Homo sapiens: one gene and its partner. The protein of the gene in region 2 interacts with the protein of the main gene of each other region in a biochemical or structural test. Each region holds a gene or a part of one and is shown on either strand. Other genes may lie near its edges.

What was found.
Region 1: the proteins of ACVR2B (region 2) and INHBA form a complex in vitro, tested with the Homo sapiens proteins (one study listed by BioGRID).

Annotation. Positions count from the first base shown.
Region 1 is NC_000007.14:41,700,065-41,707,894, forward strand, and holds the start of INHBA (inhibin beta A chain preproprotein), read right to left. Parts: upstream 3,027-7,830; 5' UTR 2,941-3,026; intron 454-2,940; 5' UTR 311-453; coding exon 1-310. UniProt on the Homo sapiens protein: Inhibins/activins are involved in regulating a number of diverse functions such as hypothalamic and pituitary hormone secretion, gonadal hormone secretion, germ cell development and maturation, erythroid differentiation, insulin secretion, nerve cell survival, embryonic axial development or bone growth, depending on their subunit composition.
Region 2 is NC_000003.12:38,477,302-38,485,483, forward strand, and holds part of ACVR2B (activin receptor type-2B precursor), read left to right. Parts: coding exon 1-193; intron 194-559; coding exon 560-669; intron 670-839; coding exon 840-991; intron 992-1,073; coding exon 1,074-1,217; intron 1,218-1,826; coding exon 1,827-1,970; intron 1,971-2,376; coding exon 2,377-2,525; intron 2,526-4,049; coding exon 4,050-4,164; intron 4,165-4,896; coding exon 4,897-5,035; intron 5,036-5,128; coding exon 5,129-5,259; intron 5,260-5,836; coding exon 5,837-6,031; 3' UTR 6,032-8,182. UniProt on the Homo sapiens protein: Transmembrane serine/threonine kinase activin type-2 receptor forming an activin receptor complex with activin type-1 serine/threonine kinase receptors (ACVR1, ACVR1B or ACVR1c).

The sequences.
Region 1 (7,830 bases), on a different chromosome or scaffold from region 2:
CTATCTCCACATACCCGTTCTCCCCGACTTTGCCCACATGAAGCTTTCTGATCGCGTTCAGAAGCGCCGCCTTGGGTACCGGCTGGGTGACATCGGGTCTCTTCTTCAAGTGCAGCATGTTTAAAATGTGCTTCTTGACGGCCTCCACCATCTCTGGCTGAGAGTTGGGTACATCCTTTGGGAGGGCGGCCAGCGCACAGGACGGACAGTCGGGGGCCGCGCTGTGCCCCTCGGATCCTGGGGTGGGGGAACTCCTCACTATAATCCAGCAACTTGCCAACAGAAATCCTCTCAGCCAAAGCAAGGGCATCCTGGCAGCAAAAGTTGTTGTGATTGCCTTTTTAAAAGGCCCTGCTTTTCCTCCCCCCTCACGCGCAGGTTTTTTTGTGTGTGTGGATTTTTTTATTTTTTTTTTTGGTGTTTTTTTTTTCCTTCTCCTCTTCAGCAAATTCTCTGGAACAAGAACAAAAAGTTTTCTGTGAAGTTTTGTTTGCAGGTTCCTCTCTGAATGCAGTCAGTGCTGTAGGTTTGTGGCTGTCAGGGAGGAGAGTTCTGACTGTCTCCGAGTAAGAGAGAAGGAAGGAGGGAGGGAGGGAGGGAGACAGGGAGGGAGGGAGAGACAGGGTGGCGGGGAGACAGACAGAGACAGAGAGAGAGGATGGGAGGGAGACAGAGACAGAGAGAGAGGAGAGAGGGGGAGAGAAGAGAGAGGGAAAGAAGGGGGAGAGAGAGGGAGAGAGGGAGGGAAGGGAGGGGGAGAGGGAGAGAGGGAAAGGAAGAGAGAGAGAGAGAGAGAGAGAGAGAGAGAGAGAGAAAGGATTGGCCCTAAGTAAGTGAGTGAATGGAGAGGGAGGGAGTTTGCTGTGAGTAGGGCTGTGATTAGGGAGGGAGGGACAGCCCGTTTTCTGACAGGCTGCTCTCCTTCTGCTCTTAGCTTCCTCACAGACACCTCTCTTCAAATATCACCATTTTCGGGGGTTCTACTTTCTCTTCTAAAATAAATTATCCTAATTTTGTTCACTATTTTTTTTTCTTTCTCTGCCCAGTCTCCTGGTTTCACCTTCTTCCTTTTTTGGAGGGGAGAAAAGAAACCCCAAACAAACACAGTGTCTCAATCAATAGGGATGAATTGATTGAAAAAGTGTTCCCACCGCCCCTCCACCCAGCCAAGCCACAGCCCTAGGTGGTAGAACGCCCACCTGGCCACGTGGTGGGGCAGAGGGTGCAGGGAGGTCCAGTGGACAGGTAGTGGAGGTCAGGGAAGAGGGACTCAGGGGTAACAGAGGATTGTTCTGGCCTGATGGGATCCAGGGGAGATGGTCCTTTCCCCCAATTCATTCATATTTAAATGTTCAGGTCATCAACACTGGCAGGCAATCTGAGGAGAGCGCAATGGAACTTTTGTTTGGGGTCATATAATACACTCCACTCTTCCCAACTGTGAAATGCAGCAGGGCACTGAAGGACCAGAGGGCAGGCAGCCTGTCACAAGCCCAAGTTCCAGAAGCGCTTTCTCCCCGTCGCGTTCAGCTGCCCCCTTCTGCCGGGGACCCACTCACTCTCACACATTACAGCCTACCACCACTCGCCGGACTTCACAGATAAAATGCAAAATTCTCTTGGCCTTTCCCACATCCTTTTATAAAAAGAGTGCACTCGTATGACTTGAATAACTGGTCCTATGGGAAAAGACTCTCTAAAATATATTGGCAAATTATTTTTCTCTGTCATGTGGTAGTTTTTTCAGCTTGCCCCAAGCCTGTCCCGACCAGTGCATTCATAGACAGCCTCCTTGACTGCTTCTTTTTCCCTCAAAGGAACAGTGCAGATGAAATCATCATGGATTTTAGTGTGCACAGAAAAAGAAAAATGTGAATTTTTTAACAATGCCTTTCTAAGGCTTAAAAAAAATTCTTCCCCCTCCCCTCTTTTTCATTTTCTGTCTTATTGCTTTTATCTTGCAGAAGAATCTTTAAGGGGTCCATCTGTTAAAGCGTTCCTTCCCTCTCGGTTTCTTTCCCACACATAAGCCCTCTTGGTTTCTGAAGATACACTCAGCTTATATCTGACACCTAGTGTGTTCATAGCATTACAGTCAAGCAATGCAGTTTAGGTGGAAAGAGTTAATAAATATCATTACTACAAGATAAGATCTGAGTGCAAGGGGAAGAGGGCAAGAAAATTGTGACACTAAGTTATAATTACAGTTTGCACAGGTTAACAATGCTTTCTGAATTATATATACTGTCCCCTTTTCCAAAACAACTATTTGTAAGACTTTTTCTGTTACAAGTAACCTAACACCTTTGGGGTTTCAGCTCCAGAAACATCAATTACTCCACCATTATTGTTAAAACTTTGTCAACATTGCCTAAAAAGCCTCATATTTTTTACGGGGATGGTGAAAGAGAATGGGGGAGGCAGGGGACATTTGTGTTACAATGGTTTTATAAAAAATCTTTGTGCTATAATACTTAACATCATCCACCTATTTGGAGTCACATATACAGTACCCAAAATGTTTTGCAGTTCAATTAAGTTTTACAAGAAAGTCTGAAATACAACCAAAAGTTTAATGGCTCTAAACAACTCAGGAGTCCTAATAGCAGCATTTAGATAAGTGCAACTTATCAATATTTGGATTCTCTCTGCATCTGAGTATGTGTGTGTTCCCTGAATTTACTGTTTGCGAATGTAACTCTTAAAAATAGCTTTCTCTTTGGCATATGTACTTGTATATATGTGCTGAGTGGCTTGTATAAACATATAATCTATTTGCATGCTCTAGGACTATTAAAAGCTGTATTAACCTGCCTGAATAATATAAAAAGGTACACATCACAATGCACATTGGAAATGCCAATTAGTTGTAAAATTCCTCCTAGCTTTCCTATCTTTGAATGTGTAAAGAGCTCAGAAGTAAGAGTTAAAAAGCATTACCTTTCTGGTCCCCACTCTTCCACCAGCCGGCTCTTGTATCATGTGGTAAGAGCTGTCTGAGCTCCTCTTCATGGTATTGGCACTGTGAAGTTTTATACTGTACTACTTATTTGTACACCACACATTGGTACCACTGAAACAGAGGAGGGCTGGGGCTTTGTTTGGGATTGGTTGGAATCAGCATGACATCAGCGGATGACTGGTTTTTCCAGTGTGAGACATTTCATAATTCATTATCTAATGGAAAGCCCTTCCTGGCTTCTGAGACACTACTGGGTGATGCACTGAGCCAGTGAAACCTCTGGCTAGGATTACTCTACCTTTTAGAAAAACATTGGAATCAAATAGATATGTCTCAATGAGTGTGTCCAACTTTCAACTTTTACTACTCGCACACACGTCTCGTTATATTCAGGTTCAGTTTTATGTCTTTACATAAAACATCTGTTACTTCATGAAGTTGCTTCTATTTACAAAGTATTTTATTGTTTCTTTCAGGAAAGAAAATTGGTAGTGTTCTTTATAGGGATTCTAATTTTATATTTTTAAAATAAGCTATTTCATTGAGGAAAAAAATTGGGAAAATCTGTATAATCATATGATGATGGTCTCCCCCGACCCCAACCAACTTACACTATTATTTTACATCTTGAAATTGAATGCCTGCTTCATAAATCAAGAACTTTGGAAATAGTAATTCTCTTTAAATGAACTTCATAAGTATCCTTCCCAGGTCTTTAGAATCTCATTCTAACTAACCAAACACACACACACACACACACACACACAACAACAACAACAACAAAAACCCTCATGCATCATTCTTTTTTACCAGAACTTCAACTCCTATAATTTCTAAATTGTTACAAATATAACAGCAGATTAATGAAAAGAAGTGAACACTCCTTGAAATAGGGGTAAAGCTGGTCAGGCTTTTTTTGTGGGGGAGGGGTGTTGGCAAGTCTGGTAAATAACACAGGAGGAAGGGGTCCTCTGACAAGAACGGTGAAGGGTTGTTTGAAGGACTACAGTTGAAGCATAAGCCCAGTTCTCATGACAAGTTGGATAAAATGTGCAAAATTGGGAGCTAATGAGAGCCATATGACCAGATATGTTGTTTTGTATGCAGGATTTAACATGCATAAAATAAACTTTTCACTGTGCCCACAAGCAAAATATAGAGGCTCTGGCCTCCTGATGTGTGGCTTAAGCAGGTTCCATTAGGACACCAGAAGTTTTCTGTGTAAAAGGGTCTCTCTTGGCTAGATACAGAGAAAGTGTGGGTGCTGAGCTGCATGGGGGTGGGGGGAAGGAGTATTCTAAGAACTGCATATGCAGAAATGAAGTAGGAAAAAAATCATTAGGTTGTAGAGGAAGAGAGTGAATCTGAGTGGCGAAGACAGAAATAGGATTAATGATGGTGAACTCCAAACCTGCCCCTCAGCTTAGCACTGGGTGAACTCAAACCCTTTATAAGAAAGAAACTTCTCCACCCTTTTTGCTGAGAATTAGTGGAGTCAATGACCTTCAGGGCATCTAAACTCACCCCTGACCCACACATGAACCCTAGTGTCCTGAAAACATCCCCTCCGCCTCCACACAAAGTAGTGTGTGTGTGTGTGTGTGTGTGTGTGTGTGTGTGTGTGTGTGTGTAGGTGACGTGGGGTGGGGGTGGGGGGCACAAAACAAACCCAGATCAGATCCCAGTTCCTCTGCTCACTCACCGTGTAAACTCAGGCCTCAGTGTTCCCATCTATAAAATGGGATCCATGATATGAACCTGTGGGGGTCAAGTGCAGCTGTCAGATAATAATAAGTGATACTATTTCTGAGAAGCCTGGTGGCTGTTCTTAAACATGGGTGTCACAGGAATCTGCAGCTCTCTGACCAGAGGAGCCACAACACAAGTGTGACTCTGAAACTCCGCTGGCCATCTGATGCCACCGAGTGCCCACCTGCCAGGCCAGCCTACCAGCCGTGCTGCAACCCCTCTGCAACCACCTGCACCACAGTGGCAATGCCTCCTCCCTCGGTGCAAATCAAGGTGGGGGTGGTGGAGGAAGCAGGCAGGTTAAAATAGCTTCTGTGGAATATTCTAGACTGGGAATCAGCTTTTCCCTGCGGAACTCAAGGGCCCGGGGCACAAGCTGGTCAGCCCAGTCCTGACCAGAATCTCCTTCTCCTTCCTTGGTTTGGTTTCTCTTTCACTTCCCCCTCCCCCGGAGCTTCCCCGCACCCCAGGCCCTTCGGGTCCCGGCTTCTCGGCCCTGCTACTGTACCTTGAGCAGCACCTGCTGGCAGCTTCCAGGGATCACGCCGGAACGCGGCCGCTGCTCGAGCCCAGCTCGCAGGATGCCTGGAGCCAGGGCCAAGCCGGTCTAAGCGGCAGCCTCTATTTTTACCCTGAGCACCAGCAAGGGCAACTTCTTTTAAGAGCAGCTCTTGATTTTTTCCCCCCTTTTGGCAGCTAAAGAATTCAGGGAGGGGAAAAAAATCACTGTTCAGTGAGTGCAGCTGGGAATCTCTGAACCCAGCCCTCAGTGCCAGGGAGTGAAACCACAGCAAATGTCAGGGAGCGGGACCTGCGGAGGGGCCGGCTGGCTCCCCGCGGACAGAGGCGAGCCGGGAGCGCTCGCGCACCAGCCAACTGCCCCCTTCTGAGTGCGGAGCGCGGTCCTCCAGCGACTGCACTAGCAAAGTGGCCCGCTGCCACCGCGTTATTCACCTAGTGGAGGCGGCCTGATTTACTGGCGACTTCACAAACCCAACTCCACGCTGGAGCATTTGCATGGCTCTGTTCTCGCCTCGAGGAGCAGCCACTAGCGAACCCGGTGGAGCAGCTTGCTGCGAGAAGGAGCCGGGAGGGAAACTGTGGTACCTTATTTTACTGTAATTGCAAAAGGAACGATGTGCCAGAGATTTATATTTAGAAGTTGTATGTTTCTACTTTTATGTAAATGGAGCAATTAGGGCCTGTCTTGCTGCTGCTAACTCCAATGCGTGTGCATTGCTGGGGAGCTGGTGTTTTCAATCACAATTAGTGAGCTGGTCAAAAAACAAAGTTCGTTTAAGGATAAGAGCTCAATTGTGCGAATGGGGGAGAGGCCAGCGTTCGTGTGCTGGCCCGTGGCTTACGGTGACACCTAGCTTAGGGCCACGGCCAACCCTATAGTGGTGTTTACCTGTGGCAGCAGCTGTCCCTGTTCAAAGTTGGCATAGATGAGGAAGCAAGAATGTTCACTTTTCTTCTCAAACCGTCTGTCCTTCAGCTTTCATCCACGCTATTAACTGGTCTCTTTCCTCACTACTCCTGGAGCAAGGAGACAGGACCAGAAAAGGGAGTGGGGGTTGGGGCATTTTTCAGGGCTCTATTATTTTAGCTGCTGCTCACGGATTGCTGTTATTCAGTCAAAAATACAAGCCAGGAGACGCGAACGCCCCAAGCAGGTGACTGGGATGTTGTTCTCTGATTCAGCTGAAATGACACAAGGCTGGGGGTTCAGAGGCACGGACAAGAGTGCTGACGAGTCACGGTGTTTTCTTTCCTTCCTATGAAAAAATCTGTTTCCAAAAAAGCATGATTTCTGGTTCATCCCGTCTGGGAAACCGAACATAAAACGTGACTATGGAGAGAAATCAAAAGGACTCGAGGTGTTCCCAGCAGCTGATGTGTTATTCTGGGGCTCAGGCCGGAAAACCTGGCCTTGTTGGTGAGGGGTGACTCCCTCCAGAGGCAGCTCAGAATCCAGAGAACGTGGGCAGGATCCAGAGTACTATTTGCTGCAGGGAGACTGCGAGAGTCTGTGATGAAGGGTCTCATCAAATGGTTTAAATCGAACATGGGATTGGCAAACCCTGCCTGTTTCCTGGACAGCCGCAGCCTGTACATAGCTTGGGCTGAATGTTAGGTAGAAAGATTTGGGACAAAGGAGAATCAGCGTTTCACGTTCAAAATTGAACTGGGAAGCTGTTTTGCTTTTAAGTTAAATCAATGAATGAATAGATCGAAACAGAGAGAGAGAGGAAAGCATTAAAAAGTCCCCTGAAATTCATTGAGAACAACAGGGTCAGAAATGGTTAATCTGAAACTTGACTCGTAAGCTTCACATTTCTTTCAGAACCACCAGAATATCCCACAAGGCCTTCTGCTATGTAAGAGCACTCTGTTTTTAGATTATTTGGAAATGCTGCTTTCTGAACCAAGGGAACCCAGATACTAGAACTAAAACAATTAGGGAAAAGAGAAGGAGGAAGAAAACCCAGTAAGTAACCTATTACTCTTCATTCTACAGCAGTGGTTCTCAACCGGGGCGATTTTGCTCCCCGGGGAACATCTGGCCATGTTTGAAGACATTTTGGTTGTTACAGCTGGGAGGGAGGTTCTACTGATCATTAGTGGGTAGGGCCCAGGGATGCTGCTGAATATCCTACCATGCACAGGACAGCCCCCAACAACAAGAAATTACCTGGCCTACAGTGTTCATTGTTCTGCAGTTGAGATACCCTGATTTCATATTATAATTGTAAAGTTTCACTCAACCTTCTCCCTATCCATCTCCAAGAGGCCTTGGAAACCAAAAAAAAAAAAAAATTGCAGCTCTACAAAATACTAATAATTCAAGTGATTCTGCTTCCTTTTGCATCTTATGTTTTCTGATTACTGGAGACTACAGATACAATGTTCCTCTTGGGCAACCTCGTTGTTCCAACCAACTTTCACGTATGGTCTCAATACATTTTCCTGCTGGCTTTTTGTTCTGACCTAAAGCAGAATCTTGGTGACCAGCAACAAAATGAGATGGGCTGGCCCACACCCAAGTTGTTAGGAGACAAGAGACTCATGCAAAAGAGTAAATGAATAAAGGATTGAGTTGTTCATTTTAGCAATTC
Region 2 (8,182 bases):
AGGCTGAGACACGGGAGTGCATCTACTACAACGCCAACTGGGAGCTGGAGCGCACCAACCAGAGCGGCCTGGAGCGCTGCGAAGGCGAGCAGGACAAGCGGCTGCACTGCTACGCCTCCTGGCGCAACAGCTCTGGCACCATCGAGCTCGTGAAGAAGGGCTGCTGGCTAGATGACTTCAACTGCTACGATAGGTACCCCAAGACTTGCCCTCCTTTCCTCTTGGACCCACCTGCGCTTATACTGCCCACTGGGCCATTTGGGTCTCAGGATGTCTGAGTGGGAGATAAAGGACCAAGAAGGGGCTCTTGAGATGGTAGCCATGGCCCCACGCCCTTCCACACCCTATTTGTCCTACCTTAGCCCTGAGGAGGGGTCTCAGTGTCAACCCCTGGCTGTTCTTCCTTGGCTTTGGGTCTCCTGTAGGGGAGGTGAGTTCACACCGTCCCCCTGGTGTTGCCCATGAGGTGCTCTGTCTGTGAGGAGGGGTTGGCAGGGCAGGCCTGGGGGAGTCTTGCATCCCCCAGGTGAGGGGTATATGGAAAATTCTGTGCCTCCAGGCAGGAGTGTGTGGCCACTGAGGAGAACCCCCAGGTGTACTTCTGCTGCTGTGAAGGCAACTTCTGCAACGAACGCTTCACTCATTTGCCAGAGGCTGGGGGCCCGGAAGGTAAGGGGGCAGTGTGGAAGTGGGGCCTTGAGTCAGCCGACCTGGGCTTCTTTGGCTTGGAGCGCTTGGCTCCTCAGTTGGGTGGGGTGTGGCTACAGGGCCCTGTAGTCTGGCTCTGGAAGTGTGAGGGTGGGCAGACTGTTTGACACAGGGCTCTGTGTGTCCCCCAGTCACGTACGAGCCACCCCCGACAGCCCCCACCCTGCTCACGGTGCTGGCCTACTCACTGCTGCCCATCGGGGGCCTTTCCCTCATCGTCCTGCTGGCCTTTTGGATGTACCGGCATCGCAAGCCCCCCTACGGTCATGTGGACATCCATGAGGTGAGACAGTGCTGGCTTGGGGCAGGGCAGGATAGAGGTGGGGAGGACAGGCCAGACCTTTTTAAGCCTTGCTCTCCCCCAGGACCCTGGGCCTCCACCACCATCCCCTCTGGTGGGCCTGAAGCCACTGCAGCTGCTGGAGATCAAGGCTCGGGGGCGCTTTGGCTGTGTCTGGAAGGCCCAGCTCATGAATGACTTTGTAGCTGTCAAGATCTTCCCACTCCAGGTGAGTGTTTGAGGGGCTCCATCCAGGTCCTCTGCCTCCACTGTAGCTTGAACTGGAGGCTCTCCTGACCTGGGGCAATCCAAACCCCAAATAATATTGTGGTATGAGAGAAAAGTGAGCCTTACTGGGCCTAGTTACTCATGTTACACTTGGCTGGTCTGTAGATTTCATGCAACTATGGAATTTTATCATAGGACTAGGGTAGGGCTTTGCAAAACCTTGATTTGCCCCGGTTACCAGGGTTTTGTTTTTGACATTGGGTTCTTTCCAGCGGCCCTGGACACCAGGTCTGGCTCTGCCTCATTTGTTGGGTGATACGGGGTCACTCACACCCCATGCATGGACCTTAGTGGCCCCATTTGTAAATCGAAGTGCTAGCCTTAAGTGATCTCAGGGATCACTGTTGGCCTCATGCTCTGGGGCCTAGCTTAATACAGGTCTTCTCCTGGTCCCCTTACAAATGCTGAAGCTGGGAGGCTGGGGGGTGGGGATTGGGCTGGGAGGCTTGAGGGTGGGGAATGGGGAATGGTTGTTCTGCTGTAGGGCAATGTGACTGCAGCAGGGCTAAGCCAGCCACTTGTCCCCCCAACCCCTCGCCCCCGGCCTCAGGACAAGCAGTCGTGGCAGAGTGAACGGGAGATCTTCAGCACACCTGGCATGAAGCACGAGAACCTGCTACAGTTCATTGCTGCCGAGAAGCGAGGCTCCAACCTCGAAGTAGAGCTGTGGCTCATCACGGCCTTCCATGACAAGGTGAGCCACACCCATCAGAATGGACTCTGAGAGGAGATGGAATGTCCCCTTGGTGGCTCTCCATAATATGATGACCCCTTCCCTGTGGAGGTGTCCACCATGAAGTACTCTGCCCCGGTAGCACTATCCACTATGGGGTTACTCCTGCCATAGGTGTGGACATTGGTTCCCCTATGATAGGAACCTCTCACCCTGGGATAAGTTTTTATGATAAGAGTAGTGACTCCATGATTCCCACCCCTAGCCCTCCCTGCCTCCTGGCCTCATCCATCTTCCATATCGATTGTAGTAGCCTTCCAGGAGAGCAGCCTAGCCATTGGCCCACTGAGACTTCTCTGCCAGGGCTGGGCTGGGTCCTGTCCTGTACCCAGAATCTGTGCTCAAGTTCTGTGCTGTCTTCTCTCAGGGCTCCCTCACGGATTACCTCAAGGGGAACATCATCACATGGAACGAACTGTGTCATGTAGCAGAGACGATGTCACGAGGCCTCTCATACCTGCATGAGGATGTGCCCTGGTGCCGTGGCGAGGGCCACAAGCCGTCTATTGCCCACAGGTACCTGGGTCAGCAGGTGCCTTTCCTGCACTTGACCTGGAGCTGTGGGAAGGGTTGGTGGGCGAGAGCAGTGTCTGGAGATGTCTCAACTTCCTAAACATACTTACCCTGCTTGCTGTGTGTCCGAGGCAGCTGGGCACAAAACCTGGCCTTCCCACTGTGTCCTGGGGATGGCATGGCCTCCCAAGCTGGTTTTTGGTGCCCTCTAATGGCCACATGAAGTGCTGACTCCATTACTTTGGTTGGAGAGTTGGCTCAGTAGTTCTCAAATTTTCTAGTTTAGGATCCCTTTATACTCTTAAAATGACTTTTGTGTAAGTGGATTATGACTATTGATATTTGCTGTATTTGAGCACACCCACACATCCCATTCGCTGTCAGAGTGAGGACATCACATCTCATGTAGCCTCGGGAAAACTCTATGCTCCTAAGAGAATGAGCCTTATAAAAGCAAATAAATGAAAATAATTTTGACTTTATAGATTCCCTTGGAACAGTCTTAGAGATCTTCTGGGGTCCTCGAACCACCCTTTAAGAAACTCTGGATGAGCTCATCACTGTCATGCTTACTAAATGGCAGGCAGTGCTCTAAACACTTGAGAAGTATCAATTCATTTGACCTTCATTACCGCCCATTGAGACAAGTACTGTATTTCTCAGCTCTGTCTTGCAGATGGAGGAACAGTAGTACAGAGAAGTTGAATGACTTAGCCAAGGTCTTGTAGCTAGTTGAGTCTGGTTCTGTGACTGTGAGGGAGGGGAATGAACCTCAAATTCCAGCGTTCAAAGCTGAAGGGTCCCTGATGGTAATAACAGTAATGACATAGAAGGTAGACTGTATGAAATTGCCGTTTTTATAGGTCAAAAGGTTGAATGTTGTCTCTGCTATATGGCTCAACTTAATAGGAATACCTAGTAAGTATGCCAGGTGTGGCCCTAAACATTTGCACTTACCACTCAGTCGAATCCTCACAAGGCTGAGACAGGCACTGGGGAAACTGAGTACCACAAGTAGCTTTGCTTAGTTAGAGGTGGAGCTGGGTGCATGCAATAGCACCCTTGCTCCAGCCGGCCTTCATGGTGAGCTTGAGACCCTAAGGGGTCTCTGCAGGATCCTAGGAAAGCTAATATTAAATTCCTATTCTCATTCACATTCCAAATGCTGTAAATTCTTCTCAGAAAACTTGCATCCCAGGCCAGTGTGCCTGTCCACAACCCCTCTGAGAATATATGGGCTGGCCTTTGATAGTGTGGGGACTGGGACAGGGTCTGCCCAGCCATTAGGGTAGGTGTTGCTTTGCCAACCCTGGGGGAAGCCTTCCATCTGAAGTGCACTGAGGGATTCTCACACCCATGTCGGCGCCTGCAGCTGCCTGCTTGTGCTGCTTCACCTCTGCACCCCAGGTAGGGTGGGATGGCCTGGTCTGGGGCCTGACTCTAGGGCACAGACTCTAGTATCTTGGGAACCAAGGTGGGAGTTGGATCATGATGTTAAGCTTTATCTCTGCCCACTTGTTTCCACAGGGACTTTAAAAGTAAGAATGTATTGCTGAAGAGCGACCTCACAGCCGTGCTGGCTGACTTTGGCTTGGCTGTTCGATTTGAGCCAGGGAAACCTCCAGGGGACACCCACGGACAGGTAACAGGCCTCACAGGGCAGGAAGAGAGGGACAGACCCAGGGTAGATACTTTGCCCTTTTTGTGCTCAGCTGGGGAGGTGCAGGGATGAGGGTGACTGCATGCGTTCAGAGCTGTCTGAGAACTTAGAGCAATGCTCTTGTTTGACCAGTGGAGAAACCAAGACCAGGAAGGCAGTGTAGTTTAGCTTCCGTAGGACAGTCAGCTGGGAAATGTAGAGATTCCCCACTGGGGTTTTGACCACTAGTCCTTGCAATCTTAGTCTTTCTCTCACTTTTTTAGTTTTAATTCCTAAGACAAAACAAAGAAATGTACTAAGGATCCAAACAAAGAACCTGGAAAAAGTAACTAAAAATTAAACTTAGGAAATCATTCCTAAAACAATCACTGTTATTATTTTTTAAGTGTTCTCCTTCCCTCTTTGTTTTTGGTCTTAATCTCAGTCAGATACATATCATCTGTAGTTCCTTGTATTAATTTGGTAACAATTCCATTTTAGATTACTATTATCTCCAGGATATAGTATTTAAAAATTATTAGCCAAGTATAATTGATGCTGTGACCTCTTGTAACTGTTGTGAATGTGGTGAATCGAGGTTTGCTATCATTGATAACCTGTCTGAATTGCTCTGTCTTGCCCGCCATCTGGTGCACAGAGGCTGTAACTCCCATGTCCCAGCTGTGTGTGTATGGCCAGTCACTGTAAATCCTGCCCTCCTCTGTCCTCACATAGGTAGGCACGAGACGGTACATGGCTCCTGAGGTGCTCGAGGGAGCCATCAACTTCCAGAGAGATGCCTTCCTGCGCATTGACATGTATGCCATGGGGTTGGTGCTGTGGGAGCTTGTGTCTCGCTGCAAGGCTGCAGACGGTAAGTAGGATGGCAGCCCTGGGCATCCTAGATTGAGTGATAGGGAGCAGTGGGACCTTAGAGTGATCCTGCCAGGCTCTCTCTTTCTCCTAGGACCCGTGGATGAGTACATGCTGCCCTTTGAGGAAGAGATTGGCCAGCACCCTTCGTTGGAGGAGCTGCAGGAGGTGGTGGTGCACAAGAAGATGAGGCCCACCATTAAAGATCACTGGTTGAAACACCCGGTAAGGGGCCTGGTTCAGGCAACTTTGCAGGGGGGTGGAGAAGGGAAAACCCTTCATGTGTAGCAGGTAAGCTGAAATCAAGGGGGAATGGGCAAATAGAAAGTCTGCGACGTTCCCTGGACTCTAGGGATGTGTTCCAGGGGTTATGGGGAGTGAGGTAGGATGATGTCCTTCTCCTGATCCCCACTTTGACTGAACTGCTACATTTTGGGCACTTGTATGGTTTGGGCTTCCAATAAGATTTTGTTTGAATATCAGCACTTCAAGGCAAGTAGTGGTGTCTATCCTAGTAGGGGCCTTGGTGTCTCCTTCTCCCTCCTGTGTATGTTGAGGTTCAATGAACCTTTCCTAGGGCTGTGGAGTGAGGCCAGTAAGCTCAGAAAGATGACTGCCATGAAGGCAGGCATGCTGATTCCTGAAGTTTTCCCCAGGCCTCTGCTGGTGGACCTGCTGCTGTGGTTGGGGCTGGTGGGCTCTGCCTGATCCTTGGGAATATCAAGTTTACTGTCCCCCAAAGCTTTTCCTCACTGAAGGGTCCTAACAAAGGTGTCTTTCCTGTCTGCCCTATGCTGCTTAGGGCCTGGCCCAGCTTTGTGTGACCATCGAGGAGTGCTGGGACCATGATGCAGAGGCTCGCTTGTCCGCGGGCTGTGTGGAGGAGCGGGTGTCCCTGATTCGGAGGTCGGTCAACGGCACTACCTCGGACTGTCTCGTTTCCCTGGTGACCTCTGTCACCAATGTGGACCTGCCCCCTAAAGAGTCAAGCATCTAAGCCCAGGACATGAGTGTCTGTCCAGACTCAGTGGATCTGAAGAAAAAAGGAAAAAAAGTTGTGTTTTGTTTTGGAAATCCCATAAAACCAACAAACACATAAAATGCAGCTGCTATTTTACCTTGACTTTTTATTATTATTATTATAATTATTATAATTATTATTATTAATATTATTTTTTGGATTGGATCAGTTTTTACCAGCATATTGCTCTACTGTATCACAAACAGCGGACACGTCAGCAGGCGTTGAGGTGCTGAGCTGTGGATGCAGAACCAGCGCCATGCTGAAGAGCCTCAGCCACCTCCTGTCCTTTGGGATTCGTTTTTCCCGCTTTCTCTTTGTTTGTCGTCTCAGAATCTGTGACACAAAGAAACCCATCTCCTGTCTTAGGAAACCTAATGCTGCAAACTCTACCTAGAGGAACCTTTGAAGACTGTTACATAAGAACATACCTTCCTCAGAAGAGGAGTTTCCTCTGCCCTCTGCCCTTCTCCCCTGCCTCCCTCCCTCCCCTCCTTTTATTTTGTTTTAGTGAGCTTAAGAAACAGCAGATGTGTCTTTCACGGATCTAACGGGTGTTGTCCTGATCGAGAAAAAAACTGGGATGAGAATGGTTTGGACTGGAGTTGGAAGGGGAGGACGGTACTGGGGGTAGGGTTTGGAACAGAGCTACACTGGACTCGGGCACATTCGGAGCAGCATCCTTTAGTATGGAGGCTACTTCTCAGGTAACCAGGAATTGAGGGGAAGGACCTTGTGGAGGCCGAGCATTAACAGCAAGAGCGGGGTTTGGAGAAAGTCTGAGATTGGGTGCAGCCCTGACTTACCTGCTGGCCCTGACCAGTTTCTTTTCACTAACTTGGCCTTGGGCATAGGATGAAACATTTTTTCTGCCCTAATTTTAAAACTAGGTGAGGGTAGAATCATCACAGGTTAGGAATACATTCTTCATAAGACACGATGCTGTAAATACCCTTAATGGACGAAAAGTTGAAATACTTTTGTTTCCTCTTGGAGCAGTTCAGGGAAATGCCCACAGGGGATTGTCCTGCACAGATAGGGCAAGAGGATTTCCTGGGTGGAGTCTGCCAAGGCCTGCCTCGCTGGGGACCCCAGAGTCCTGCACCTCTGGTTCCGCCCCAGGTGGTGACATTACTGTCCCCGTTCTGTGGCTCGTGGACAAGACTTTCTCCAGACCCCTTAAAGTGGTACATATTCTAAAAAACTGTTTTTCTATTATGCCATAACCTTGCTCTAGTCAGTGAATGTTCCTAATGCTGCTGTTTCAACATTTGAATTCTTTTTAATTTATGAAACATGCTAAATTTTTTTTTTCAAACAAAACACACACATCCACATATACACATGCTTCGCTATGTGGCTTCCAAGGTTTAAATTTTGAAAAGTAAAAGAATTAAAACTTCACGACCACAGATCACCTCAAACCAGAAATACCTCAGAATTTTCTACTTATGTAAGGTTTATTATATATTTTGTTAGTTGTGTTGTCTTGTAGTAAGTATATTTTAATGTAAGTTGGCTTTTGTGACAAGGAAGTTTAAAAGAAATAGAGAAAAAGAAAAAAGTTTGCATCTTCTAGGGAGTGCTACCATTTTTGTTTGATAACGCCCCCTTGTAAATAATTGTCATCAACTGTAGGTTGGCTGTCTGGGCCAAGTCTGGGCATTTATCAGTCTTGTTTGTGAAGGCTTTTCCTTCTGGTTTCTTTAGATCATTTTATTTAAAAACAGTGCATCTCTTCATCGTGAGGGTAGGCAAGGCGGGGGCCGTGGGGAGAGGTTGACCTGGGTGAGAACTGAAGAGGCCGCCTCCTCTTGGGTTGTTTGGAGCTTCACATGTAATTCACATGTAACATGTAACTTGATCGGTCAGTGTTCAGAATGACAAGTAACCCCGCTTAAACTTGGTAGAAGGATGGCCCTTAGACCTGAATGGGGTGATTTTACTTGGGATTTAACTTCTTCAGCAAATTAACAGCAACGTTGGAAGAGATCTGTGGCGCCTCTGTGAAGCACACCGTGACTCAGGCCAGTCTTTTAGTGCAGCGTGTCTGGGAGTGAAGGGTTTTGCCCTTGCTGGTCTTGGAGTCCACAGTGTGAGGGGCACTGCACATGCCTGGGCATCTAC